7 separate regions of the Homo sapiens genome follow, and all the other regions are linked to region 7. The links come from fine-mapping of genetic effects on gene expression. Tissue or cell type: whole blood. Region 7 holds a variant in brackets; each other region holds the start of a gene. Each region is shown on its reference strand, or each on the opposite one.

What was found.
Region 1: it holds the start of RNF13, and the variant in region 7 is fine-mapped to the expression of RNF13 in whole blood (TOPMed, PIP above 0.99).
Region 2: it holds the start of KLHDC8B, and the variant in region 7 is fine-mapped to the expression of KLHDC8B in whole blood (TOPMed, PIP above 0.99).
Region 3: NLRC4 starts here. The variant in region 7 is fine-mapped to the expression of NLRC4 in whole blood (TOPMed, PIP above 0.99).
Region 4: NCF2 starts here. The variant in region 7 is fine-mapped to the expression of NCF2 in whole blood (TOPMed, PIP above 0.99).
Region 5: it holds the start of NFKB2, and the variant in region 7 is fine-mapped to the expression of NFKB2 in whole blood (TOPMed, PIP above 0.99).
Region 6: it holds the start of PPIF, and the variant in region 7 is fine-mapped to the expression of PPIF in whole blood (TOPMed, PIP above 0.99).

Annotation. Positions count from the first base shown.
Region 1 is chr3:149,810,872-149,814,935 of GRCh38, reverse strand. RNF13 (ring finger protein 13) reads right to left here and starts at 1,721. Exons shown (of 10, transcript NM_183381.3): 1 at 1,583-1,721. RefSeq lists enhancers at 1,878-1,987, 1,853-2,364 and a silencer at 2,198-2,347.
Region 2 is chr3:49,169,597-49,173,660 of GRCh38, reverse strand. KLHDC8B (kelch domain containing 8B) reads right to left here and starts at 2,063. Exons shown (of 6, transcript NM_173546.3): 1 at 1,976-2,063; 2 at 516-1,025. The coding sequence starts at 891. RefSeq lists silencers at 2,048-2,147, 2,368-2,537.
Region 3 is chr2:32,262,767-32,266,830 of GRCh38, reverse strand. NLRC4 (NLR family CARD domain containing 4) reads left to right here and starts at 1,945. Exons shown (of 9, transcript NM_001199138.2): 1 at 1,945-2,093.
Region 4 is chr1:183,588,496-183,592,559 of GRCh38, reverse strand. It overlaps NCF2 (neutrophil cytosolic factor 2), which reads left to right and starts at 2,101. Exons shown (of 15, transcript NM_000433.4): 1 at 2,101-2,404. The coding sequence starts at 2,231. RefSeq lists enhancers at 1,372-1,711, 1,822-2,081.
Region 5 is chr10:102,393,287-102,397,350 of GRCh38, reverse strand. It overlaps NFKB2 (nuclear factor kappa B subunit 2), which reads right to left and starts at 1,646. Exons shown (of 23, transcript NM_001322934.2): 1 at 1,555-1,646; 2 at 1,371-1,463; 3 at 1,017-1,098; 4 at 862-902; 5 at 528-626; 6 at 296-447; 7 at 1-49. The coding sequence starts at 1,391. RefSeq lists enhancers at 1,051-1,170, 1,581-1,630, 2,681-2,970 and a silencer at 2,981-3,380.
Region 6 is chr10:79,345,527-79,349,590 of GRCh38, reverse strand. PPIF (peptidylprolyl isomerase F) reads right to left here and starts at 2,122. Exons shown (of 6, transcript NM_005729.4): 1 at 1,848-2,122; 2 at 485-515. The coding sequence starts at 2,042. RefSeq lists an enhancer at 1-374, cis regulatory regions at 1,141-1,641, 1,324-1,824, 1,353-1,853, 1,856-2,378, 1,846-2,378 and 5 more and silencers at 1,689-1,918, 1,939-2,348.
Region 7 is chr7:28,682,410-28,686,473 of GRCh38, reverse strand. All of the region lies in intron 5 of CREB5 (cAMP responsive element binding protein 5), which reads right to left. Among named protein-coding and RNA genes, the nearest start is that of CREB5, 270 kb to the right of the region's middle. RefSeq lists enhancers at 547-1,055, 1,272-1,321 and a silencer at 994-1,163. The variant C/A (reference allele first, on the strand shown) is at 1,717.

The DNA.
Region 1 (4,064 bases), not on the chromosome of region 7:
AACTAATAAAACAGTTCTCATTCCCTACATAGAGAAAAATAACTGTGCCTCTCTCCAACAGTTTCCAACAAAACAAAAAAAAATTATGTAATAGACAAATTTTGTTTCATTTAATCCTCATAACAACTCATTTCTTATTTACGGAAAATGTCACAGAATTAGTAAATGGCAGAGCTGAACCCAGCTTGACTCCCAAATTTGGAATTTAGTATTTTGAAACATTTGTTTTTGCCATAATCCATAATACACTTTACATTTCCATCTTCCTCTTGACACACACATACTGTTAAAAACTGAAACAAAAGCTTCTTGCCATAATATTTACTTTTATTCCATACAATGTCCTCTGGTATTTTTTCTTTCTTTATAAAGCTTATGTCAATGTACTAAATTGATTCTAAAATCTATTAATGAATCCTTATGGGCCCTGCACTACAGCACTGCACTACACTTCCTGCACTACAGCACTGCACTACACTTCTTACCTCCTGTTTAAAGTTCTTTTTAATTGCTATCACTGTCCAGTTTTGTTACTTCGAGATGGAGCTAATGTCCACCCATTAAAAAACTGTGCTTAAATAGCATAAACTCTTGAAAGCCCTACCTTAAATCTTGAATTGATCTGTTTCTCCAGAAGAACTCTTTGGAGGCACAGCCACCTTACTTATTTATATTGTATCAAAAACTGCAGATGTTCTCCTTGGAGAACAAACACATCATTGTTGAAAGGAATGCATCAGTTTTCACTGTTTCTGCTGCATCACTGACGAACAGTAATAGCCGGGCAGGTTTGGGGCAACAAGAGAGGACCCGAGCAGCTGCCCACGGTGCTGAAACTGATGATGAAACGACAGTTTTGGAAATTTACTATTTACTATTGTCAGATTAGGACAAAATAGAGGAATTTACCAGACACTGGCAGAGAAAACTGAGTGGCCGCCACCAAAGTTGCATGAGTGCTTCCGGGATACTGCTGTTTGGCTTCGATGTCTGCCCACTCTCTCTTTCTCTCTGGGACAAAGTTATTTAATAAGTGCAAGTCAAGTCAAGTCAAGCATACAGGCAGAGCTGCTGACTGACCGTAGTATCTGGCCCTAGCAGGGGTTAAGTCCCAAACCTGCAATCTGAGCTTCCAGGGAAAGAAAAAGGGGGTGGGGGTAAAAGAGAGGAAGTGACTGCCCTCCTTCTATTCAGAGACAAAACAGCCCCCTCAACTAAAGTCAAGCGATGTGCCCGAGGACGTTGCGGCAGGTACTTGACCAAGAAAAGCCTTCCAAACATGTTTTCCAGGCAGGCTCTTGCAGCCTCAAGAAGGGAATGAGAGAAGCAAAACCGGTAACTCAACTTTGGACACACACAAACTCGCGGAATGAGAGTGCAGGGGAGACTCGGTCCCCCGAGGGCAAGGCTATTTTATTCCTTTTGCAAAAAGCCTAATTGACTTCTCACCCAGCTCTAGAGGAGCAGCAAAGACCTCAGCAGCAGGGCCGACTCCGAGCTCGAGGGCCAACAAGCGGGGTATGTTCTCTGGGCCGCTCGATAACGAGCTGCCCGGCTGCCGCGAAGCCGGACAGGGTCTTACCTTGAAGTCCGGCCCCCGCAACACAAACAGTCTTGCCAGCCGCGTCGCTGCGGGAGAAGTCCCTACCCTGATTTCATGACTGAATATCCGCACCGACCCCCACAGCCCGGAGTACTAGCAGGGACGACAACACCTAGGCGAAGCGGAAGTCCCGCCCCACGCGCCTCATTGGTCCGCACCCAAAGGCACAGAAAACCCACTGGGCAACATGGTTGCCTGTTAAGGCTCTTTCCCACTCTCACGCGGAGTCTCGCTACTTGCTCTAGCCCGGCTCGGAGAAATGCCCAGTTTGCGAGTCTCGTTCTTGGCCGCGTGATCCGTCTTCCCTGGAAGGGAAGAGCAGGGTGGGGCAGGCGTCTGCGGAACTGGAGCGCGGCTGAAGAAGCTGCTCTTGGCAGAGGAAGGGGCAGGCTGGCAAAGTGGATTGGCTGTGGGCGCCTGCCGCTAACCATGTGCCCCTAGAAACGGAGACCGTAGGGTCTGGAGGGCGCGGGACCGAGCGGGCAGGGCCGGTCGGTCTGATCTGCTCCGGCTGTTGGGACAGAGTAGCCCAAGATTCGGCTGCCGGGCTGCCCCCGGGCGGGCCTGGCCCTGGCGCTGACGCGTCTCTTCCCTGCACACTACACTCACCCGACCTACTAAAGAGGCGAGGGCGAGGCCTCATCCGCCCGCCTTCCGTACCGTGCCCAGTCTGAGATCAGAGTGGGTGGGGACCGTGGCCACACCTTAAAGTAGGGCTCAAATTGTTAGAGATGCGAGCGGCCCGAGGTCTGAACGCCAGTCCCCTGAGGCCTGGCTCGGATCCACGCTGGCATCAGCACTCTGGGCCTGACACGCGCCATCCCCGGGGCTTAGCAAAAGTCAAACCATGTGATTCAGGCCCTAGGTCAGCCTTTTAAAACCCTTGCCTCCTTTTGATGAACCAAAAATCTCCTCCCCTGCCGCCCTTCTGATAAGCCTTCCTTTCTGGTTGTCTCAATCTTAAACCAGTCGAAACTTAAATTACCGGATTGTACCATCCACATTGATTAATCATTGCCAACTCGCCACCTTACAAAAGCAGTGTGACTTAGGCAAATATTACAGAGTCCTGAAAGAAATGTCAGGAGACATAGAATCAGGCACTACTTCTGCTTCAAATAATAAGGCACCCTTAATAAGGCCTTTACAGGCTTCAACTCCTTCAACATCATCTTTTAAAAATGGTGGCGAGGAGGCTATCACACAGAGTATTAGTAGAATACCATTGGATGTAACTTGTCACTTTGATTGCTTGGAGAGCCCTGAGTAGGTGGGACACAGCAATGGGGAAAAGACTCTTTCCTTATTGTGTATCCTTTTGTGCCTTTTGAATTTTGAACCTTGCAAATATTACCTACTCAAATAAAATTCAAATACAAGAAATTTAAGATCAAATTTTAAAAAATTAAATAAAAGCTATCAAAGGTACTTTCCTCTTCTGTGTATCCTATGAGTATTCTATGTAGTCTTAACTTTTCATTGGTTGCAAAGACATTCAATACTTAAATCACAATTCTGCCTTTAAGAAAGTCATAAATAAAAGTCAGCATTGGGAATATTACTAAGAAGACTAATTAGTATAAACACATTTATAATATCTCTATAAGCATTTTTTTCATTAAATTATCCCAAATTGGTATATTAAATCAGATTTCTTGCATAACATCAAAATAAATTTTTTTAGGCCGGGTGCGGTGGCTCATGCCTGTAATCCCAGCACTTTGGGAGGCCAAGTCAGGCGGATCACTTGAGGTCAGGAGTTCAAGACCACACTGGCCAACATGGTGAAACCTCGTCTCTACTAAAAATACAAAATTAGCCGGGCATTGTGGTGCACACCTGTAATCCCAGCTACTTGGGAAGCTGAGGCAGGAGAATCGCTTGAACATGGGAGGCAGAGGTTACAGTGAGCTGAGATCCCACCACTGCACTCGGGCATAGGCAACAGAGCAAGATTCCATCTCCAAAAAAAAAAAAAAAAATTAAGTCCACAGAGAGGAGCTTTGGGTTTTGTTGTTTTATTTTTATTTATTTTAGAGACAAGGTCTCACTCTGTTGCCCAGGCTGGAGTGCAGTGGTGAGATCATGTCTCACTGCAGTCCAGAACTCCTGGGCTCAAGTAATCCTCCCACCTCAACCTCTGGAGTAGCTAGGATTACAGGCATGTGCCACCAGGCCTGGCTAATTTTTTTATTTTTTTTAGCCTTACAGTCTGGCTATGTTGCCCAGGCAGGTCTCAAACTCCTGGCCTCAAAGGATCTTCTTGCCTCGGTCTCCCAAAGTGCTAGGATTACAGGCATGAGTCACCACGCTCAGACAAAGAGCTTTGCTTATTCCTTAAAGGCACCTTGAGTACAGAATATTTTACTTCTGGTTTCAACCTGCTCTTCAGATAACAATAGGTATAGTTCTCTCAACTATGAACAAGGTAATGTGTCATTTGTACTGCATTTAGGCTACA
Region 2 (4,064 bases), not on the chromosome of region 7:
CCTCAGAGTCAGCTACGACATGTCTGGGGGCCTTAGGGTAATGGGCCAGTCAGCTGGGGGCTTCCATGGCAACCATCCCAGATCAGCTTGGCCTTTGTCCATATCAGGCTCCCTGGCGTGTGGGAAGGGTTGGGGGTGGGGCAGGAAGTCTAAGCACAGGCTCTGAGCCAAGGCCCTACTCCTCTCCCCCACCCCAGACTATTTATAACCCTGGGAGTCATTAGGCCATCCCACCCCCATCTCTTAGAAATGAGGAGTGGGGCAGGAACATGGCTGGGGTCTCCCATCATCCTGGGATCGGCTTGGGCTCTGCCTCCCACCTTAGCCAGAAAAGGCAGTTAATAGAAGGCAGCAGCTCAAATCTAGGTTGGAAAGGATACAGGGGACAAGGCCACATCCTGGGCACCCATGTAAAAATTACAGCTCTTGTTCAGTCTCTGAGGGTAAGGGACTAAGTCAGGAAATAATAAAAGGTGTTAGGGTACCTGAAGTGCCTTCCTTGGGAGGCCACTCACCTCTCTCCACAGTTGCAACCCCCATGGCTGCTTGAGGGAGGGTGGCCCGACGCTCCCAGCGGCCCTCATCCATCAGGAAGGCCTCTACAGCAGCTACCGGGCTCTGGACCTCATCCACACCACCCACCACTAGCACCTGCTTGCCCAGAACTACCGCAGCTGCACCAGCCCGGGCAGTGGGCAGGGGTGCCAGTGCCAGCCATGTGTGCGAGGCCATGTCCAGTGTCTCAGCAGTGTCCAGGGGCAGTCCAGCCCGGCCACAACCCCCCAACACCAGCAGGTGCCCATCTTGGTGTGCCACTGTGCCATAGACCCGGCAAGTGGGCATGGGGGGGAACACTTGCCAAGCAAAGGCCCGGCCACCTCCTGCAGACATGGTGTTCACTGCCAGTGGCAGGCCATGCTGTCTGCTCAGACTGTAGGCCTCACTGGGGAGGCATGACAGGGCCTCATCTTGATTCTGCCAGGGCCACAAGAGGTATATGACCAGTCCAGGGACCTTGCCTTCACCTGGAGGAAAGAGGGAAAACAGGGGTCAGGGCACTGACCGGCCCCTCAGGAAACAAATAAGCAGCCTGTAGCTAAGGGCAGGGCTGGCCCAAAATCACTGGTGGGAAAGGCAGGGGGAGAACCCAACCCCTCTGGCTAGCACACCACTGTGGAGGCCCTCCTGGAGTGGGAAGGAGGGCAGGCCCCAGGTACCCAGGAGCCTTTCCCCTTTCCCATGGAGGCATGAAGGATTCTCCTTCTCACCCACTACCCAAACCACTCAGCAACTGGGTCAAATCTGGGTCTAGGAGGGCAGTAGTAAGGTGACTAGAACAGGACTCTCCATCCAGGACCCTTCCTTTCCCCTCAACAAGCCTCACGCTGGTCCTGCATGAGGGGAGTCCTTACTGGCTTCCAGGGTGCCCTGGGCAGCCTGGGGGTCCCCACGCCTGCTGTCAGGGGTCAGACTCCAGAGTATCCTTACAACATCCTGGGGGCCATTCCACAGGGTTAATTTAAACCATTCCCACTAGTAAAAGACCAGAGTCAGGGTGTGTTTCAGACTAGGGGGAGGACTAAACACCAGGGTTCCACACTCTCCTCTCGAGGTCCCCCCTCAGGAGTTTGCCCATTCCAAACCCCCCCAGAAGCCAGATTCCCTGGTGTCCAGAAGTGGGGTTGGGGCGGGGGGCCGTTGGAGAAATCTCATGACCACAGGACTCCAGGGTCTGAGTCCAGGGCGTTTCCACCAGGAATGGGCAGCTGGACTTCTGGGTTCCCTCGCAGGAGATCCCCAAGTTCTCCAGCCACCCCTTTCTCTTGGTGGCTACACTCCTGGACCCCTGGCAGGAGGGCCTCTTGGCCCCAAACTTCCAGCTCAAGGATGTGGGGGGCGGGTCTGGGCTAACGCGCTTGGGGTTCTACACCCCGCGCCCCAAACTTCCCCTGAGCGCGGTTCCCGCGGGACTCACCCGCCGGTGCTCCGATGCTGCCAGGGTACGGGGTCCGCCGTTCCGCCTCCGTTGACGCGGGATCTGGCTGGGGCTGAAGTCGGGCTCTGGCGGGGCTCCGGCACTGCTCCGGCGCGGGGCGGGGCTGGGCCAGGTCCGCCCCTCGCCCCCCTCCCCCTCCGACTCAGGGAAACCTCCTCTCGCCTTAACCCTGCACATGCCGCAGCTGGAGCAGGGCGTGCCGATCTACGGTCATATGCAAACGGACAGATAAACGGACACTTGGACACTGGGCCTGACAGAATTTAGCGTCCGACCTCGGGCAAGAGTAGAAATGAGGCAGCGGCGAGCGACACAACACGTGTATGGCAAGGGGCAGTTCTGAGCCCGACCCAGCCTGGGTGCGCAGGCTGTGTCGAGCAGGCCAGCCGAACCCGAGGGCTTGAGGGGCCGGCGCCTGCCCACCTCCGCGGAGCTCCCAGGAGCCCAATTACAGGCTTCCCGGCGGCGCCCCCTGGAGGCCACTGGGGACATGGCCTGGGCCTCTGTCGTGTGGGGGCAGCCTGGGGCGCCCTTACCTGGGCATAAAGCAGGAATAGGTCTTACAGTGTACACTGAGGCTAGCGGGGGTGGAGGAACAGAAGGCACTGGCCCTTCTACAAACCTGGGTGGGGAGAATTCCTGGAAGGAGTGATACTGAGCAGAGAATGTGCTGGAAGAGTCAGAGGCCAGGGGACCTCCCAGTGGGTCACTCTGGCCTCATCCTGTAGGGCCTGAGAGACCTGGGCTACTCTGGGACCCAAGGCACATTATAACTATCAATTTTTAGTATCCTGAGCTTGCCTCTAACCAATTCTGGGGTCAAGCAAGAGCAAACTAGTGTGACAGGGGCCCACCTACCTCAGGCCCAGACCTTGGCCCTGCCTATCTTCTGAGCATTCAGAGTATTAGCTAAGTCTTCAAGCTGAGGGCCCATTTGTACAGGTCAGTGGTACCTGTGGGAAGAGGTCCTTGCAGTTGTCTGTGTCTGCTCACTGCCTTGTCCCCCTTTCATGGACAGTGCTTATCTTAGTTTCCCCCAAAGCAGACCTGGACAAAGATATACATGCATATAGTTAGTATGGGAGGTGAGGCCAAGAAACACCAGCAGTGGCAAGGAGACAAGGAAAGCAGCCAATAAAGGAAGTGTCATCAAGCAAGCTACCACTGTGGGCCATTGGGACCAAATCCTGCTGGGGATTCTGGGAGCCAGCGTAGAACATAGGCCTTACATCATTGCTGCCCCCAAGAACAAGGGGAGCTGAGATACTCATTCTCAAATCTCCATTAGTCATGGGTTGAGAGCTGTTTGGGGGCATTACCTATTAACTCCCTGGCCTCCCTCACATCTGGCCTTCCCAGAAGTCTATGGGTAGACCCTCCCGCATGACCGGAGAAGAGAGCCTTTGCTCTTTTCAGGGACTGTCAGTTGGATTCAGTCGGCCTGCACAGAAATGGTGGTGCCAAGGCTGGTTACAGACTGCACAGACCCTGACTTGAAGGCCTCAATCCTCCTTGTCCCACTTCACCTTGGACTTGCTCCTCAGTGCCCTCACTTGGGGCACTGTTTCCACCCTCTTGTGATTGCCAATAGGCTTCCAAGAGGCTCACACTGCTCTGCAGCCCCCTTCACATTTGCTACTGTTCCCTTTCCAAGCTCCCTCCTCCTCCTTTCCAGCAATTAAACACTTACAAGCCACTTGCCTTTAGATACCTCCCAACACCCCAAGTCTCTCTAGTCTCCCCTTCCTCCACTCCAGTCAAACTCTTGAAGCCATCTGTCCTCACAGGCTCCACCTCCTTGTTACTTGTCACCTCAATGTGCTGCCACTCCTCCCCAAAAATTGTTCTTGGAAAAGTCATCATGAAATACCATATAGCTAAAACTATATGTGCCTGTGGTCCTTAACTAAATCTTGCTAGCATCTTCAAAGTTTTGCCCCTTGTGACCTCAACTCCCTCCTGCTGTTTGTCCTGCCTCTGAGAATCTTTATTTTTTATCTATTTATTTTTTTTTTGAGACGGAGTCTTGCTCTGTCACTCAGGCTGGAGTGCAGTGGTGCCATCTCCA
Region 3 (4,064 bases), not on the chromosome of region 7:
ATTAAGGGCCCACCTGGATCATCCAGAATTCTCTCCCCATCTTCAGAGCCTTAAATGGAACATATCTGGAAAGACACAATATTTACAGTTCCCAGGGATTAGGATTTGGGATATTTGGGTAGCCACTATTCAGCCTACTACAACCATATTTCTACATTTTCCCTTTTTATTCTATATTACATCATTTATTAGTACAAAAGTAATAGGTGTTTGCTATGAAGAATTAGAATATACAGGTTGGGCATGGTGGCTCCCGCCTGTAATCCCATTACTTTAGGAGGACAACACAGGTGGATCACTGGAGACCAAGAGCTCAAGACCAGCTTGGCCAACATAGCAAAACCCTGTCTCTACTAAAAATACAAAAAATTAGCCATGGTGGTGGCCCACACCTGAAATCCCAGCTACTTGAGAGGCTGAGGCACAAGAATTGCTTGAGCCTGGGAGGCAGAGGTTGCAGTGAGCCAAGATTGAGCCACTGCACTCCACTCCAGCCTGGGCAACAGAACGAGACTCTGTCTCAAATAAATAAATAAATAAATAAATAAACAAATAAAATAAAAAATAAATAAGTTGATAAATAAAATTAGAATATACAGATAAGCCAAAGACAGAAATTTAAAATTGCTTATAATTGTATTCCCCAGCAATAAGCATCATTACTATTTTGGTGGCTGTCTTTGCAGTTTTTTCTCTTGAACATATGTTTATATATAGGTTTCATTACAATTTAAAAATCTAGCTGATAGTGTAGCCCTCAATCTCACTTCAGAGAAACCCACCTCACAAGTTGGGAAACACTGACACTGATGCCCCCTTAGAAAACCCAGGATGTAGACATTTATTTGCCGGGAAACTTTGGTATCCCTCTATGGCAGATAGGCTACTGTCAGAATGCTCTTTTTGAAATAAGAAGTTATGTAACACAAAGACATGTTCCTGGTAGTTTATGCAAAGACAGAGGAAAGAGTATGCAAGAATGTCATCCTCAAGGGAAGTGCAGAGAGATTTCTTCAGTCCTCAGCTGAGTATAAGCTGGCCTCCTGGAGTCTGTGAACACAAACGTCCAATGTGAGTGTGCCTGTGCAAGCCCCTGGCTGTTTATACTCCGGAGGGTGTCCCCGTGCGTCATCGGTGGAGTGGACCAAAACTGGTGATCTGTTTGCCCTGTGTGACCTTGCCCAGAACCCTGCTGACTGAGAGAACACATCTGCTGGAAGTCCTCTGGGATTCAAGGTACAGGGGTAAGCATGACCTTGAATGCAGTAGCAATGTGCTTTAGCCAACTAAGCTGGCTCATTTCATTTACCGCTCTATCTCCCATGGTTAAGCATTAAAAATACATGTTGTGGCTGGGCATGGTGGCTCACGCCTGTAATCCCAGCACTTTGGGAGGCTGAGGCTGGCAGATTGCCTGAGGTCAGGAGTTCGAGACCAGCCTGGCCAACATGGTGAAATTCTGTCTCTACTAAAAATACAAAAATTAGCCGGGCATGGTGGTGCACGCCTGTAGTCTTAGCTACTGGGAGGACTGAGGCGGGAGGAACGCTTGAACCCGGGAGGCAGAGGTTGCAGTGAGCTGAGATTGTGCCACTGCCCTCCAGCTTGGGTGACAGAACAAGACTCTGTCTCAAAAAAAAGAAAAAAGAAAGAAAAAGAAAAAAAATATATGTTGGATGTTCAGAAGACTTTGTTTCATTTTAAGGTATAGAATAAGTAACTCAACAGCAATGAATTCATATGTTGTGAACAAACAGGAAACAAATGAGTAATTCCTTTCTTGACGGAATTTCTAGCTCTTGCATCTTTTACTCTGAAGTTCTACTTCTTCCCCGGCTACTCCTGCCTACACCCATCTTCCCTTTCTGAACTGGTAGTACTTGTGTCCAAACCACTCTTACTGTGCTTTGAAAAAAAAAAAAGGAACTGCTCAGCAGTTCCCCTCTCTGTACACTGTCCTCTCACAGAACAAGAAGGTATCTGGTCTACAAGAACTCGAGGCCTCACTGAAACGGAAAGCAAATACAAAGAAACTTTATTTTAAAAACATGTCTTGGTCTCCCAAGAAGAGGGCAATTGGATTGCTCAGCCAGGTACTGTGGGTAGAGAGAATGGGATTTTTAAGGTCTGGGGCCCAAATATTAAAATCTGGGTTTACATTCATTTAAAGCTTGTGTCTGGGATGTACAAAAGCCTTAACATTGACGAGTGTGATTTGCATGCCTGGCTGGATTTGCCTGCCGAGAAACCTTTAGGGGTGGTTAATCGGGTCTGCTGGGGCTTCATCAGGTTCAAGGGGTACATGTACCCCTTGGACTACTGTGAGATGGAAAGGACTTTGGAAACACTTTTTGGCATTACAGAAAGGAAACTCACTCTTTTTTTTTTTTTTTTTTTGAGACAGAGTCTTGCTCTGTCACCCAGGCTGGACTGCAGTGGCGTGATCTCGGCTCACTGCAACCTCTGCCTCCTGGGTTCAAGCAATTCTCCTGCCTCAGCCTCCCAAGTAGCTGGGATTACAGGCACCCGGCACCGCGCCCCAGCTAATTTTTGTATTTTTAGTAGAGACAGGGTTTCACCATGTTGGCCAGACTGGTCTCAACTCCTGACCTCGTGATCTGCCCACCTCAGCCTCCCAAAGTGCTGGGATTACAGGTGTGAGCCAACGTGCCCGGCCAGGAAACTCACTCTTGTTGCTAAGACTGTTGTTAGAATCACAGATGATCAAAGCTGAAAGGAACGAGGTGGACTACTTAGTCCATCCAATCTCCCAAGTTACTGATGAGAAACCTGATATTTGGAGACAGAAGTGAAGGAAATCACCCTTTACGGGACACCTATTTCGTGATAGGGTCTTTATGTACATTATCTCAGTAGATCCTTGCAGCCTGGCTTTGAGAGGTGGAAAATGTGGTAGAGAGGAGTTAAATGTCCTGCCCTACATCACACTGCTAATTGTCTACAAAACTAGGATAGAACCTGGTCAGCACACTTCTTAACTGTTCACACACTTTTATAATATTAGTCGTATTAATGTGTTTAAAATACCATAGACTGGGTGGCTTAAACAACAGAAATTTATATTCCCACAGTTCTGGAGGCTGCAAGTCCAAGACCAAGGTGTCAGCAGGGTTGGCTTCTCCCCACGCCTCCCTCCTTGGCCTTTTCTCTCTGTATGCACATTCCTGGTATCTCCCTTTGTGTGTCCCGATTTCCTCTTCTCATAACAGCCTCATTTGAGCTTAATGACCTCTTTAAAGGCTCTGTCTGCAAATACAGTCACATTCTGAGGTTCAGGGCTTCAACATATGGATTTGGGGGAAGCCCAGTTCAGCACATAACACTAATATTAACATGTGAGATTGCTGAAGCCTATTAAAGACCTAAGAACATTCTAGTCTAGAGCCTTTTTACTAGAAAGGAAGACAGATAATACCCACTGACCATCTTTGTCACAACTACTTTCATGTTTAATCTTCACAATAGTCCAGGGAGGTGAATATTATGCATGATTTGGAAAGCAAGATTCGGAAAGGCTAAGTAACATGTCTAGGGATACTTACCTCATAAGGTGCAGAGTGAGGATTTGAATTCAGATCTGCAATGCCAAAGCCCACACACATTTTCCATTTCTGTGTGCTTCCTGTCTGCTCCTAATTATATGTACTCTTTCCCTTATTTTATCTGTGAGGTGTGGGAATGACCCCATAGACGTGGGTTATATGGGTCCAGAGAAACTTCAGTTCTCTGAGGAGCTCATGTAACCTTTTTTAAGAAAATGCCAATTTTAGAATTAGTACTAAATATTATTTTCCAGCTGGGCATGGTGGCTTATGCCTGTAATCCCAGCACTTTGGGAGGCCGAGGCAGGCAGATTGCCTATATATATATAATATATATTATTATATTATTTTCCAATGTACAAATGTGGGGGAAGGACTTCTTCCACCCAATTCAGTTATTCACTGGACAGCTTGCGGGGAGGGGTTGCAGGGCCATAGCTACATTCCAAGAGAGTACACTGGTCTCAGTCCTATTCTTTTTTTTTTTTGTCTGAGACAGAG
Region 4 (4,064 bases), not on the chromosome of region 7:
CCCTTCATCATGTATTGAGTATCTGTGCTAGAGATCCTAGAATGAAAAGGCATGGTCCCAACTTCCAAGGAGCCCATGAATTGAGCAGATAAAGAGATAAATTGCAGTAAGTATGATGCAAGTTTTTGGGTAAAGGTGGTACAAAGGAGAGGAAAATTCTCCTACTACCCAGAGTTCAGGGCTAGATTTAGCACAGTTGGTGACATTTAAACTGGGCTTTGAAAGATGAGTAGGAGTTTGCCAGGCAAAGAAGAGAGCTGGGAAGGCCTTGTAAACACAGGAAAACAATCTGGACAAAGACACACATGTCTTCTTAATTCTCACACCTTCAATCCTACAAGCACTGTGGAGTATACATTTTTAAGTTTTATTTTCAGGCTTTTAGGGGAAGCTTGGTGATAATGAGTGAATTCTTTCAGTTGCTACAAAACAAGAGTTTGCATCTAAGTATTTGACCCCCATAAACATGCATTTTACCTAAAAAGAAGCCTGGATTTTAGCAAGCCAAATTGGCTATACCCTTTACCCCCAGTTATTCCTCTGGGAGGTTTTACTGATTTTTACTTTTCTGGAAAAGCAAGGAAAGAACTCTTAAATCTGTTTTTTCAGAGACTAGTAAATCCATTAGTCATCAGTGCAGGACTTTCATCTCTTCAATTTTTCACTGGAAGATGGGAGAAGTCATAATTCACTGTCATGTGGCTCCCAATTTTGACATTTGCAGGAAATTGGTCCCCTCTGAACTTCATGAATGTTCATAAAAGTTATTTCGGCTGGGCACGGTGGCTCACTCCTGTAATCCCAGCACTTTGAGGGGAGGCCGAGGAGGCCGAATCACCTGAGGTCAGGAGTTCGAGACCATCAGCCTGGCCAACATGGTGAAACCCCATCTCTACTAAAAATACAAAAATTAGCAGGGCGTGGTGGCAGGCTTCTGTAATCCCAGCTACTCAGGAGGCTGAGGCAGGAGAATTGCTTGAACCCAGGAGGCAGAGGTTGCAATGAGCTGAGATCGTGTCACTGCATTCCAGCCTGGGCAACAAGAGTGAAACTCCGTCTCAAAAAAAAAAAAAAAAAAGTTATTTCAGGCCCAGATCAGATGGATCTCCAAAGATTATCCTGTCTCAAAAATTTGTTAATGATAATTTCAGCTCAAGATAAACACTAACATATTAATACAGCCTATGGGATTACAAAAAAGTGAGCAAGGAATTCATTCAAGACTGGAAAGAATTATCCTCTCATCTGACACTCCCATTTAACAAGGGTGTGGAAATCAAGGCCCAGTGACACAGGATTTTTTCTCCATCACTTTGTAAGCCAGGAACCTCTGGCTGGTGACACCCTGCCCAGGCCTCAGTGGGCCACACTACCTGCTGCAGGAGATGGCCTGCCCACTCGGCCTGGGTGGGGAGTTTTATTGAGTGATGAAAACAGCTTTCAGTGGAGAGGGGATGCAGGGGTGGTTCCCCTACCCAAAGGCAGGAAAGTCCCCCCAGTGCGGGTGAGTCTGGGGCTTTTATGGGCTCAGAATAGGGGAGGGGCAGGACATAGGTAGTACTGGAAAAGGCAACATTCAATTGGTTAAAAGGCATTAGTCAGAAATAATTAATTGGGAAAGAGCAGACAAACAGGAACAGAAGTTCTCACTCTAGGTCACGGGTTTCATTTGGGACCAGTAGCCTAGTCTTTCAGCCTTCAGGCTGTTTTTGGCTTGAAGGTGGGGTTTCACCAGGGACCTGCCCCTATCTGCCTAGGCATTTGGCTGCCTCCTGTCATTATCACCAGGGAGGTGCCTCTACCTGCCAAGGTTACCCTGGCTCTAGAAGCAGAACTTTGGCCAGAAGCTGCCACAGAACAGGGGTGGGAGAGAGAAGAGGAGCTGGGTGACAGAGCAGAAGCATTTTGGGGAACTGATCCTTCAGGCAGCAGCTGATGTACTTCCTCTCTCCTCCACACTCCACCCCTACTCGCCCTCTCTCTCTCTGCTTCTTTCCTTTTCTCTCTCATGGTAGGGTTATGAGTCAGTTGCCAAAAGGTGGGGACATTTCCTGATGCATTTGCAACACTGAGAAGTTATCTTAAGGGAGGCTGGGCCCCATTCTACTCATCTGGCCCAGAAAGTGAACACCTTGGGGGCCACTAAGGCAGCCCTGCTAGGGGAGACGCTCCAACCTGTCTTCTCTCTGTCTCCTGGCAGCTCTCTTGGCCTCCTAGTTTCTACCTAATCATGTCCCTGGTGGAGGCCATCAGCCTCTGGAATGAAGGGGTGCTGGCAGCGGACAAGAAGGACTGGAAGGGAGCCCTGGATGCCTTCAGTGCCGTCCAGGACCCCCACTCCCGGATTTGCTTCAACATTGGCTGCATGTACACTATCCTGAAGAACATGACTGAAGCAGAGAAGGTGAGTGGAGGTGCCTCTTTCCGGGCCTCCTCTGTGCATTTGTTATTATGATTCTCAACCCCATTGCATTTCGGAAACCTAACCTCTGGGGAGATTGAAAAGAACAAAAGTTGCCCAAGCTCCACCCCTAGACAGCCTGATTTAACTGGTCTGGGAGGGGCCCCAGGCAGCCAGTTTTAAAAGCTCTCCAGGTGGAGAGCAGGTGAGGGGCAGCCAGGGTTGCCTCTTTCTCCATCTTCTAAATTAAAATCATTCTACAAGTGTCTTTAACACCTTTGTGAAGGCTGTCCTAGTCGTACTTTCTTCTACACAGAACTCCTTCTGGGCACAGAATCTCTATCTATCCCAGCGCTTTACACCTGATTATTGATTCTAAGGCACCTCTTTTGGCTTTCCAAGACTTTCATGTGTGTCGACTTTGCCTGCTCAAGAGATTTAAGGGAGGCACTTACAAAAAATAGCTTTTATCCCAAGTGACAATTCTGATCAATTATAAAGGAGACTCTTTTAAAGATGCTGAGGCTGGCAAGAGGAAATTGTACTGTGATTGACTAGTGATGTCTGCTGGGGGCATGGTGTGGGATGTCTCGCATCTTTTTCGTTATGTTTTCTCACTCAAATACCATAGTATGGAGTTAAGCATTCTCGATAATTATTTTTTTGATTGGTTGTGGTAAGGTGGAAAGGGTATGGAGTTTGGAAGGAGAAGATCTAGGATCGAATCCTAGCCTCTGTCTCTCTCTGGACTTTTAGTCTTAAGCAAGCTATGTAGCCTATGTAGACATCTGGCTTTCAGCTTCCTGAGTTTCTAAATATCATGAAAATTAAGTGAGATGCCAAACTATTAATGTCTCGTGGAACTTCACACCACTGTATAAGAGTTAGTTATTATTTTTACCGATTACTGCCAGTCTTTGCAAGGTGTGGCAGTGGTTGACTCCCCAGGTCCCTTAAAGAATCAGTCCCTTCCACACTCCAACAGTAGGTAAACAAGCCTCAGCCACACCCTCCTGACAGGAAGACAGAGAAGTGACTGAAATGTTCTCACATAGCTTGACAAGTCAATCTCAGGCTCTAAGGCAGAGCATGGCAGGACCCCCCACCTCTGGCTGGAGGAAGGACATGGCCCCACCTCCTCTCAGGGGCCTGCTGAGGGGCTGAGTGAACAGCACCACACATTCTGAGGGCTGATGGACACAAAGTGCACATTGTCCAGGAGAAGAGATTGGCAGCTAGTCTGGGCACAGCTATGCCAGCAGGGACTGTAGCCTCCTGCCTTGGCCTGGATATGGGATCCTTGGCAAGGTTGTGTGGGCCACCACTCACTTCTCAGCTCCCAGGCCTTCAGGCCCACATGTCTCTGTTTCTCCTGGCATTCCTCTGCTTCTAGCCTTCTCATTCCTTCTGCCTTTCTTTGTTTTCCTGCTTGAGCCCTTCCTACTAGCATTTATATGCATTCTTATTCATTATCATTTTAATTGTATACTATTCATGTATAAGTTTGTATAGTAAACAAATATAACAATTTATATAATATTTTAATTATTTTCATTTGCAATAAATTTTATTATTTATTTAAACTGAATGTTCAATACATTCATAGGAATACAAGAAATGCAACAAGGGTTAAAATTTCATTATTACATTAGATATCATTTTT
Region 5 (4,064 bases), not on the chromosome of region 7:
CCCCATCATGTTCTTCTTAGTCACATGCAGGACACCCAGGTTGTTAAATCTGAGAAGAGAGAATCGGAGGCCTTTGGCCATGCAGTTCTTTCTTCCTGAGGCACCTTTCCCATTGCCAGGGCTCAGCTCAGCCTTACTTCCTCAAGGAAGCCATTGGAGTTTCTACTTAGGCCCTTGGGTTTGGGGCCAACCTACATCTTTCCCCTTGGTCAGATGCTAAGCTCATGGAGGTGGGCTGGGGCCTGGGACTGGCAGACGGGCATACCAGTGGGGGCCAGGCGTAGAGGGCACCTACTGGGCAGTCATGTCCTTGGGCCCCACAGAAACGGCGCAGATCCCCAGCTCCGAGCATTGCTTGCCCACCAGACTGTGGGCATGAGCACGAGGTGGGTCACTGTGTGTTACCAGGTCCACCTCGATCTTGGCTGGTCCCTCGTAGTTACAGATCTAGGAGAGGCAGGGACTGTCAGTCAGGGCCTTGGGCATGCTGTCCACTTAGCCCACCCTCCAGCACCATCCTGGCTCACCTTGACAGTGGGATAGGTCTTTCGGCCCTTCTCACTGGAGGCACCGGGCAGTCCTCCATGGGAGGGGCCTTCACAGCCATATCGAAATCGGAAGCCTCTCTGAAGGTCCAAGGGCATAGTAGCATTGTGATCAGGGAAGACCACCCAGGCCAGCAGTGACCGCAGTGCCTGGTAGTAGCCCTGAACCAAACTACAGCACTCTGATCAGCAGCAGTGACCATCCAATCCCCTGTGGCCTCCTTCGGCAATGGCTCCTCCATGGCCAGCCAGCTACCACTACCCCATTTGTCCCCAAAGCTGAAGCCATTCCACACCCTCCCTTTTGCTCACTCACCTGCTTAGGCTGTTCCACGATCACCAGGTAGGGGCCATCAGCTGGGGACAGAGAGACCTTGCTGAGCCACGATCTCCCAGCCCCTCCCCCAGAGAGAGGGCACATGCTCTCCCTCCCCCGCTTTAGGACTAGGGGAGGTTAGTGAACTTGCTGACCTGTTTCTGGGGCTGGCTCCTTGGGTTCCACAATGGAGGAGTTCAATTTGAAATCATCATATTCAATAATACCATCCAGACCCTGGTTTGGAGACAGACTGGGGGTGGCATCCGACTCTCAGCACCCCCCACAGCCCCACCTCCCATCTCCAAGTCTTCAGTGGTCACTCCCCCCTCCTCCTCAGACCCAAGAGAAAGCTCCTTTTGGAGGCAGAGTTGCAGACAGATGGACAGACTGGCAGGCTGAGAGCATCTGCGAGCATACAGGTGTAAGGCAGCAGAGGGGGCTCGGGCAGACAGGTGGACAGACACGAGGGGCAGCCGGCCGGGTCAGGGGCAGGCGGCATGACTCACTGGGTTGTAGCAACTCTCCATGTCTCTGGGCTAGGCCCGGCTCTGTCTAGTGGCTCCGGCCAGGTTCTGCTTCCCAGAATTTTAGACGCCCGCCTAAAGTTGGGAGGAGTGGCGTGGGGGAGGGGGTCAGATCTAAATGGGGGTGGGCGGGAGATGGGGGCCCAGATTTGGGGGAGGGTCCGACCTCCTCCAGCCGCCTGTCCGGGTGTGGCGGGTGAGATCCGGTGGAGAGCGAGATCCGGAGTTGGGCTTGGCCGGGGAAGGGGCAGGAAAGTTAGAGCAGCTTAGGAAAGTCCCGAAAATACCAAGGGGAGGCGGGGCCGGAGGGGGCGGGCCTGGAAATGACGCCACTGGCCCCGCCCTCGCGACGGGAGGGGCGGGAGGCCCTCGACAGTCTACGGGCTCCCGCTGCTTTTCAGCGGGCAGAGGTCTAGGAGAATCCGGGAAGCCCCGGTGGGGGTTAAGCCCCCTCCTCCCTCCAGGGCAGGGAACAGGAGGGTCTTTCACGGCCGGGAGGAGGCTGGCAGTCTGGGGCCAAGTCCGCCTCCCGCTCCCCTCCCCCGGTCTGGAGCAACCTTGGGATTTTCTGCCAGGAGGGAGGCCACGGCTGATAAACCCCGGGGGCTTTTGGGGGGACATTCCTGCTGTCGGACGGCCTCCCCTTCGAACAGCCTGTAGGCGGGGGCTCTTTCCTGTGGGAGGCCCCGGGGTTCTGCCCCGAGAACGCGATTCTGGGGCTGCGGGAAAAGTGTCTCCTCCTCGGAGTGGGCTCTTTTCTCTCTCTCCCAAACCTCACAACAGCAGCTGGTCCCACACCGCACCGGTTCTGGGCGCGCAGGCGACAGGGAGATCTCTGCACGCTCCCCCCCCCCCCCCCCCACCTAATACAAGAGTGTGTCTCCATCACAGCTCCACAAGTGTGTTTCGGCTGTAGTGCTTGGTTGCATGTTGTGTGTCCATGGCGTCAACATGAGTGTGCAAGCGAGCATGTGTGTAGATAGGTGAATCCCGAGCTTCTCAGTGTGGGTGTGTGTCAGCGCCTGTCTTGATGTACGGACACGGGTGAGCGTATCTTGAGTTTGTGCGTGAAGGGTGTGGGTGCAGGCACCAGTGCACCGGTGGGCACGTCTCCGTGTGCATGTGTGTGCGAGTGCGACTGCACGGACGCTGCCGTGTGTGCGCCAGCACAGGTACAGGTGTACGTACGGGTCCGCGTATCTTTGTACAACGGTGTCGACGTGGATCCGAGTGTCGTCGCCTGCGCGCCCTTTCCGGCTGTGTGCAGCTGCTGCTCTCCAGCCCCAGGCGCTGTCCGCTAAAGGCCCTCCTCCCTCTTTTCTCTTGTCCCGGCCACCCAGGGGTCTGAATCCAGCCACTCACCGTGGCGGCGGCTCTGGTTGCGGCTTCTCTCCGCGCCCGACCCACCTGGGACCGGTCGCGACACCTCGCCTGCCAGCAGGGCTCAGGGCCGGGAAAGCCCCTTCTCGGCCCCCCGGAGGGGGGAATTCCCATGACGTTTCCGTGCGTCACGCCTCGCGCCCTTTTTCATTGGCTGAAAGTTTAACTCTGGACTGGCGCAGCCAACCCGGAGCGACTCGGGCGCGCCCCTGAGAGGGGACAGGCTCACTCAGGGCGGGGAGCGGGGTGACAGGACACCAGGCGCGAGTTCGGCCGGCCAGGGGACCGCCGAGAAGGTACCCGCTGACCCAGCGCCACCCCGGGCCGGGAGCTTCCGCTGCCTCTCGGCTTTGGCTGCGCCTAACGCTTGGCTTTCTCTGAAGCGGGGGATCCCCAGGGGGAAGCCGACGGCCCCAGCCCTCGGGGCCCCCACCCTGAGCGGCGCGCTGCCGGGAAGTTAGCGGAAGAGGAAGGAAGTTATTCTTGCGGTCGGTCCCGGGCGCCCTCTGGCGGCCTCCCTGGGCCCGCGAGTAGACTCCATTCGGCCCCGGCCCCTCTCTCGCTCCGTCTCATCAGCCTCAAGGCTCCGGGAGAGACAGTCCGGACCTCGAACTTTTTTAGAAGTGACAGGTTCCCAGCGGGCCAGGGCTCAGGAGCTCTGCTCAGGAGAAGGGAAATGAAGTGTTTATCCACCAAGGAGATCTGGAATATTAGAACTGAAAAAGGCATCCAGAGTTTAAACAGCTCAAATTTCCACCGATGTGGGAAATCGCCTCTTTTTTTTAGTCTCAGGCTGGAATGCAGTGAGGGGATTTTGGCTCACTGCAACCTCTGCCTCCCGGGTTCAAACCATTCTCCTGCTGCAGCCTACCGAGTAGCTGGGATTACAGGCGGCCACCACCACGCCCGCCTAATTTATGTATTTTTAGTAGAGTTGGGGGTTTCACCACGTTGGTCAGGCTGGTCCCGAACTCCTGACCTCAGGTGATCCGCTGGCCTCCGCCTTCTAAAATGTTGGAATTACAGTCGTGAGCCACTGCGCACGGCCTATTTATTTATTTATTTATTTATTTATGTTTTTGAGACAGTGTCTTGCTCTGTCACCCAGGCTGGAGTACAGTGGCGTGATCATGGCTCACTGCAACCTCGAACTCCGGGGTGCGCCGATTCTCTGACTCTCCTGAGTAGCTGGGGCTACAGGTGCACACCACCATACCTGGCAAATTTTAAAATTTTTAGTGGAGATGGATCTCACTGCGTTGCCTAGGCTGGTCTTAAACTCCTGGGCTTAAGTGA
Region 6 (4,064 bases), not on the chromosome of region 7:
CCCTGCTACATCCCCAGCAGTGAACAGGGGGATAAAGACTCTGGCCCACCTCTTGGGTCTGCTCTGCCCAACTCGCTATGTAACTGGACAAGTCACTCCCCTTCCCTGTCCTCAGTACCTGAGCACTGTGACAAGAGTACAGGCTCATGGCTGTGCTGGCCAGCAGGGCACGGACTCAAGGGCTGTGTGCCCATCACCCTGCCTCACTGGGCACCAGGAGTGGGGAAGTCTCCGGGAAATTTACATGTGCCTTCCACTGGCTCTGAGGCTCCCAGCTACTATGAGAGAGGAGGGCAGAGCCAACGTTGAGGCCCAGAGAGGGATGGCAGGGCTGCCCCAGAGCACCCAATGGCTGAGCCACACATGGAGCTCCCATCTGTCAGGGGTCTCTGAGCCCCGACTCTTCTCATCACGCCACCCACCTTGCCCTGCCTGGCCCCCTTCCCTCTAGACCCATCTCAGAAGGCCCCAGGCCCTGTCTTACCAGCTGTCTTTGGGACGACATCTGCCTTCAGCTGTTGGGGGAGAAGAAGGACAAAAGAGGATGGTCATTGGAGAGGCAGGTGAAGGTGGGTGTCTCTCAGCACCCACCCACCCCCACAGTGGCCAAGGAGGCTAAGGAAGAAGCACGTGGACATTCCATTCCCATTATTGCCAACCCCCATGGGAGGCAGCTCTATCATTTCTGGGAGCCGTTTCCTGAACCCAAGGCTGGAGGAGGTGGCCTTGGTTTCCTAATCTGTCAGAAGAGATGACAATGCTATCTTGGCCTACTTCTGTGGACACAGCTGGCAGTGCTCCCACAGCTGGGCCCAAAGCATCAGAAATTCAGGGACAAGAGAGTGTGTCTAAGGTAGAAGCCAGACCAGCTCCTCCATTCGGGGTTGGGAAACTGAGGCCCAGGGAGAGGCATGAGGGTGTGGGGAGGGAAGGCTGAAGCCCCATCCCAGCCAGCCTCTACCCTCGAAGCTGCAAGACCCACCCTGGAACCAAATGGAAGCAGGAAGGGTGTCCCTATTTTCCAGAAGAAACTGAGAATGAAGAAGAAATACTAAGGGCTCCCTGGGATACGGGCCAGTCAACACAAACAGACCCCTGCTGTCAATGTGTGGCCGACCTGAAGGCTCCACTAGGGCTTTCCCTCTAAAGCTACCCTGGTGACTGTTTCTTACTTTGCTTTAGAAAAGACCCAAAAACAGAGTTAGGGGAGGTGCTCAGTGTGGCCCCCAAGGACAGTGGCAGGGGTTGAGGCGCCGGGCACACTGTCTCTGAGTGTGTCCCGACTCGCAGGAGGGGCATTCTGGGGTCCACCAGGTGGCCGGGGCCTGAGGCCTACTGGGCCCGCACTACTGCTGGAAACCACCTCTCGCTCCATTTCCCAGCACCCCCAGTGTGAGCCCGACCGCAGGGGCGGGGCCGGAGCCAGGAAGCGCTCCGTGTTGTGCAAGGGCCGCCACGTGAGCACCCGCTGGGCCACGACGCTCACCCCAAGACCCCCGACACCCACCTCGGAGCTCCGGATCTAGGCTCAGCCCCAGAAGGCTCCTGGAGCCCCTCCCTCGTGCCCGGGCCGGCCCAGAGGTGCTGAGCCCTCCCTCTCTGCGATCTGACCTTGAGCTTTCTCCTCCACACGTGCCCTCCCTCCCGTCTCCCCCGCTCCAGTGCTCCGAGGGAGGCCGGAAGAAATCATTCTGACGCCCATTCTCAGAAATGGGGAAACTGAGGCCCAGAGCTCGGCATGGGGAGGCCCAAGGTCACCCAGCGCGCCCGGCACCGCGCCGCCCGGGGCCCAGGGCTCTCCCCGGGCCCGTGTCCCGCGCCCAGGCCGGCCCTGCGAGCGGTCTCACCTCCAGCACCACGCGGCCGAGCGGCTTCCCGTTGGCGTCCACGTCCAGGTACACGAGCGGGTTCCCGGAGGAGGAGGAAGAGGACGGGTCGCCGGAGCCCTTGCTGCAGGCGCGGGCCGCGGGGAGGCGCAGCGGCACGGAGCGCGGGACGGAGAGCAGGCCGAGCCAGCGGGAGCCGCAGCGCAGCGCCAGCATCGCGGGCGCGGGTCGGGCGGGACACGGGCGGGGAGAACACAGAACTCAAACTGACGTCGCGCGCGCCCAGAAGGCCGAGTCCCGCGCAGCCGCGCGCCGCAGCCTTTATTGGCTTGCCCAGGTTCCCGGCCCTGCCCCCGTCCCGCCTCCTCCAGGCCTGTCCGTGGACTACCCCTGCCGGCCGCAGCGGGCAGCGCAGCCAGCCGGTGGGGCCGCGGAGCGTGAAGTGCTTTGAAACACTCCCGCCTCCAGGCCCAGAGACCCGGAGAACAGACACCTGGCAAAAGGTTGCTGGTTCCATGTTTATTAAGGTACCAGCAGATTTTTTTAAAAAAAGAAAAACTGCTAAAACGTAATTAATTCCAAAATATGAGCATCTATACGTTGCAATTTGAATATAATAGCAAAAGTCTACCTTTGAGCCCTTTGCAGGTAAGGCTCAGGCCAAATAAGCTTCCCTGCTGCCCTAGGTCCTGCAGTCTGAGAGGGTTAGAGAAAGGTGAGATGAGAGGCGGGATTAGTGAGCTAGAGGCGCAAGAGGGAGGAGATAAGCTGAGACACCTCCCATGATGCCCCCTAGCCTGCTTGTCCCGGCCTGGGCCTGTCTCTAGTTGTTTCTGGGGACCAGACCTGCTTCTAGCAAGACTGAAAACGCAGCCTGGGCTCATCATGCTCCTTTCAGGCCCCCAGCCCTCCCCAGGACTGGGTCTGATCCCTCCTCCTAGGACCCACACTGACAGCCCCGGGGCAGACTGCCAGCTGCCCCCTCCCATCAGCATGCACCCTGGGAGGGGACTCAGTGGGGAGACCCACAGCAGGAGCATTTAAACCCCACGTGCTGAAAGTGGGCTTCCCAGCAGCCAGAGCCACCCTCACTGCAAGGTGGTGGGAGGTCTGCAATAAATGGATGCCACGCAGGGACCTGAGAGAGCATCTGGCCCAACACTTGTACTGTCCCCAGGGGAAGCTGAGGCCTGGACACAGGAAGGCACTGGCTAGGGCTAGGGAGCCCTGGAGTATTGCTACCAGCTTGCACCAGTGCTCCAGGCCTCTCTGGGCCTCAGTTTCCCATCTGGAGGGTAAGGGTGCGATCATGCTCCTCATCCTGCTTTTTTCTCGTGTCTGTTCTTAGGATAAAATGAACGAGAGAGACATGGATTTGTCAACTAAGTACTGTGCCTGTGGGCATCTGTGATGGACAGAGTCTGGACTGTCTTTCTCACAGTTTGGGATTCAGAGAGCTGCGGTCTCAGTTAGAGGCCTGAGGGGTCAGAGAAAGGGGTGGGGCTGAGCCTTGGAGGCAGGTGGGCAGGAGTAGGGACCAGCTCTGGACTGACCTGCCCCAGATCCTGAATGGGCTCATGGGAACAGGTCAGGCAGCAAAATGCCAGCCAAGCAAATTCATGAGGTCAGAGCAGTGCCCTAGCTTCATAAGAATGCTAGCTTGGCCTCTGGAAGTTTGGCTAGCTTGGCTTCTGGAAGTTCATAGCCCCCTTCTCCGATTCCTGGCCTAGGAGGGGCCTAGGCACCCAGTGAAGCCCAGGTGGGATGCATTCCAGGTCCCAGCCCAGAATGGGGCCTCACTCTGCCCTGGGGAGCAGCCCCTCCTTTCTTATGATTGTGCCCTGAGGTGAGCAGGCCTGAGTGGGGAGCCCACTTGAGCCCTCAGCACATGTCCCAGACCTTCCTCTACCAGTGCATCCTGTGGATTTGAGAGTGGAGGAATCACGCCATGTGCCTTGTCATGAAGCTTCCTTAAGGCCCCAGGCTTCCCTGCGGCCAGTTCCAGGCCCTGAGCTCACAGGACCTTCAGCCACAGCAGGTAGCTCAGCGTACCCTGTTGTTTCTCAAGCCTGCTCCTGGGGGGACTCAGTTTATGCCCCATCCTGATGAAGCATGAGCATCCCCACCCCAGGGGAGTGCTGCCTTCATTCACTTGACCACTTCAGTTCTCAGAACCCTTTCCCAGCTGTGAACTCTGCCTGAGAGACAGCTCTGTTTTGCAGATGGGGAAGCCAGGCC
Region 7 (4,064 bases):
CCTCCAACCCGGCCTCTGTTCAACTCATTCAGGTCTCTGTGCTAGAACAAAAACTCTGATCGAAGTGAAAAGAAATGCCTCTTCGGGCAAGAAGAGGAGCGGAGGGGCTGGGGAAAGAGGAGAAGGAAGAAGAGGAGAAACAAAGACGGGCAGAAAGGGAGAAGGGGGAGAAAATGAAGAGGAGGAGGAGGAGGACGAAGGCTCAAAAACAGAAGGCAGTAGGGGCAAAAAAAATCTATAAAATCAGGAGAAAAGAAAATAAAATTAAAAACAAACCTCATGGACATCACTGAGGCTGAATTCCCTCCTGAGGTGCAGAACATGAGAGCTCTGGAATGAGTGTGTGTAGAATTTGAGCCAAAGCTTAACTAGCTTGAGTGAGTCATATCCTTCCCATTTGATTCCAGGCCAAGCGATGATGTAATGTGCTGGCCCTTCTTTTGCGCCTAGCTCTGGCTCTCCCTCCGGCTGGGCTCTCGCTCACTTGCTCTCTTTCTCCTGGTCTCGCCCTCCTCCCCCTTCTCCTTTTTAGCTCAGTGCTAGTGAAGTCACCACTTAAATCTGGCAGAACTGAAGCAAAAACTTCAATGTAACCAAAACAGCCCCAGGCTGAGTTCCAGGCTCGGAGAGCCTTCGTGGTGCACTTGCCCTTAGAAACGGGTAAACAAAGGGGGAAACAGTGCCGCTGGGGATGGCCCTACAGCTGCCATCAGAGAGCTCCAAGAGGGACCCGGAGTTCTGCAGGCAGGGGTCAGCTGGTTCTGCTGGAAACAAAAAAAAAATACTGGTTAAAAAAAAAAAAAAAAAAGAGTGCCCTGTGTTTGGAGAAAGGGAAATAACATCAAGACACGTGTAGAGATGGGGAAGCAGGGAGTGAAAGATGGCAGGTTGGAAGGTCTGAGTGTGAAAAACTAACCTCAGTTAGCAGCTTGGGCTTTGGTTCAGAACCAGGTGACAGGGTTTCCATCGCCCAGGGCCCTTTTTTCCTGGAGCTGGATGGGATTTTCTGTTGCTGAATGCCAACCACCAGCCCTCCGGAGACTTCTCGCATCTGACCTCCCTGTCAGCGAGGGCAAAACCACTTCTGGTCCAAACACGTGCCCGTGTCTGGAGCCACCAAGGGCTGTGAAATCACAGTCACTTCTCCCTTGGCCCCTATGGGTCACCCTGTCAGGTGCTAAAGGAAAAAGACCCCAGCCACAAAACACAAAACTTGCCTTTCTGAGATTAGCACTCCACCCTCAGGTGAACCTTCCAAAGGAGAGGGAAGGAAGACAAGTTCTCCCTTAAAATGAAAGACAGGCTGTGCCCCCACAACTCAACTCGCTGGAGGGGGTGCTGGTGTGGGTGGGGCCGTCTGTGACTTTAAAGAGGAGAACAGACAGTATGTGTGTCTCTTTTTTAATTACAGAGTGAGGAAAAACAGCCTGGGGAGGTGGGGGCAGTCAAGCATGATCCTTCACAAATGACAGTGAAGCCTTTTTAATGGCTGAATTCTACCCCTCACTTCACACCTCCCCACTCAGGGCTCCACCACGACAATGACAACAGTCCAGACACTACTCTATTAGCAGGGCTTTTTAACCCCATCATCTCTCCGTTTTGCTATTTCTCCCCACACTTCATGTTTCCTTCAAAAAGAAAAAAGTAACATGAAAATGGGAAGTTCGCTAGAATTTTTTTTAAATACCACAAAAGCAGAAGAAAGGCATGAAG[C/A]TGCAATTTTTTTTTCCTTTTCCAAAAATGACCATGGCTTGTGCTACAGTCTATTGCCCCTAATGCCTTTTGTGGCCAATGAATCAGGTAGATAAGACAAACATTGTCTCTGCACGTTGCAAAGCACAGAGGATCTTGACTTCTAAACTGTGTTTTTGGAGAAATCTCTCAGCTTATTAAAGACGTCCACTGATGGAGGTCAGGGATATTCATCTGAATCCCCTGGAATTTAAATCACAGCTTCAGGGAGTGTTGCCGTACTCAGGGTGAAGAGTTAAAAAGCAATATTTGCCCAAGGGTCTCCAGGACCCTGGGGGTTGGGGTGGGGAAGTGCTTTCTCCAGCAAGCTGCCCTTTGGCTTGACATCCTCAATTGATGCTGATGCCACAGTAGCTCCGAGTGACACCTTTATCAAGGCAGGCAGCTCTGAATTAGAGGTGATCAGCCATAATTACAGCTGGCGCCACTGAAGCCTGTGGCCTGACAGCGGCAAATGTGGTTGTTATAAAGTTTGGTCCACCATGTCAGTGGCCTGTATAACTCATTTACGTCTGACTTGCCAAGCAGACATTGATTTTTCTTCTGCTAAGGGGAATAAATAAAACAAAATTTTCAATAACTTCTACAAGCCTTTACACTTCAAGGCAGGTTGGCAAGATTTTGCATAAGCTACTTTTTCCTTTTTAAATGAGCCATTGACCATCTTGGTTAATATCAAGCTATGGACTTTCACTTTCCCTTCCCTACCCCCCAAATCTCCCCTCCCCACTTTAGTTTTCTTATTTAAATGTTTTATTTATGTTACTATTTTTGGTGCAAAATGGATATGTGGTAGAGTTTTCCAAATTTACATCTTTTTGTAAGCTCAATGGGAAAATGTTCTCTGTAGGATTTTCCTTATACCACATTAGAGGGCCGGGGTGAATCCACTAGATACCAGGCTTCTGCTGTTTTTCAGTGACATAGGCAAAAGGGACCCTGTGCTTTAAATAGAGGTGATGTAAAGATGGCTTTCCTGTGCCTTGCTTGGGAAGTAACAAAGGAGATGATAGCTTCAGCCAATGCCGGGCACGGATCTCAGATGAGACCCGCCAGCATCATTGCTTCTGCCAGGAGGAGTAAGAGAACAAGAGGTTTGAAGGTGGCCAGTGTGCCTCTGATCAGGGAGTGACATCGCCAATGGGTACAGTGTTTCTAAAACCCAGACAAATGCCAAGGACCCAGAAATGTCTGGGTCTGATGATGACGCCGTTAAGCCACCAACGTGCCAGAACACTTCGACATCCCAATAAAACAACTTTGGAGTGCTGGCCTGAATTGAAATCAATTTCAGAGTTCAAAGGTCTGCATATTTACATTTGCACTTGTTGTTCGGGACATAACTATTCCCTCCTGCCCCTTCCAAATCAGGCATTCCACTGGCTGCTGGGTGCCTCCCCACTTGAAAAGAAGCCCTACTTTCCCATTTTCCTTCCTGTGAGCAGCTAAAGAGAGACAAGATCCTGTTCCCAAAAAGAAATGCCCCTCTGACTCAAGAGATTCCTTTTTCACCCATTTGGCCTTCTCCCCTACCCCATGTCCTAGCTGCTCCTCTGAAGAAGGGGGGCTTCGTAGATAGAAGTCATAAGATGCTGTAATTCCAGAGGGAGGCTTCTTAGAAGTAGCCCCCGGCCAACAGGCTAGGTCTCCAGATTAGCTGGCTTGCTCAGGAATGCTTACAACACCCTCCTTTGCAGAGCGTGTCATCCTTGGGGAGAGGGTGGTGGGTACCGCGCAGCTGTTCGGTGTAACTCACTCACACACTCCCAGCCCCTGATGAAATGTTCGGCTCCGAAGAAGTGGAAACCTTTGAGATTTGAGCTCAGAGTTCAGAATGCTTTTGGACTCTTTCCAAATAACCCAATAGAAAAGGCACAACTTGGATTGCAGGGATGGAGGGGCTCAACAGCCAACTAGAGTAGACCTTTTGTGTGCCTGGGTGAATTTCTGAGCTCAAACACGTTATGAGAAACATAGCAAATATGAGAAACAATGGAGATCCTTCCTAGAGAGAGCTGGGGTTTCCCCCCCCCCCCACTTTTAGGTTTGAATTTATTCTCCTCAAGGAAAAGTATATCATCTTCTTTCAAATGTTGTTTTTAAAATTTAACCCAAGATTTCTACAGTCCCGGTGGAGTTTGAGGGGCCAGATAATTTCAGAGTTAAATAAGCTGTAATGACTATCACATGTACCCAGCCATAAACCTAGTATTAAAAATTATTCAGAAAAAAGTGGCATCTCTTCCTTTTTTAATTTACAATAACCATCCAGGTGGTTTTCTAAGTCCTCCTTTGCAAATTGCTTCCAG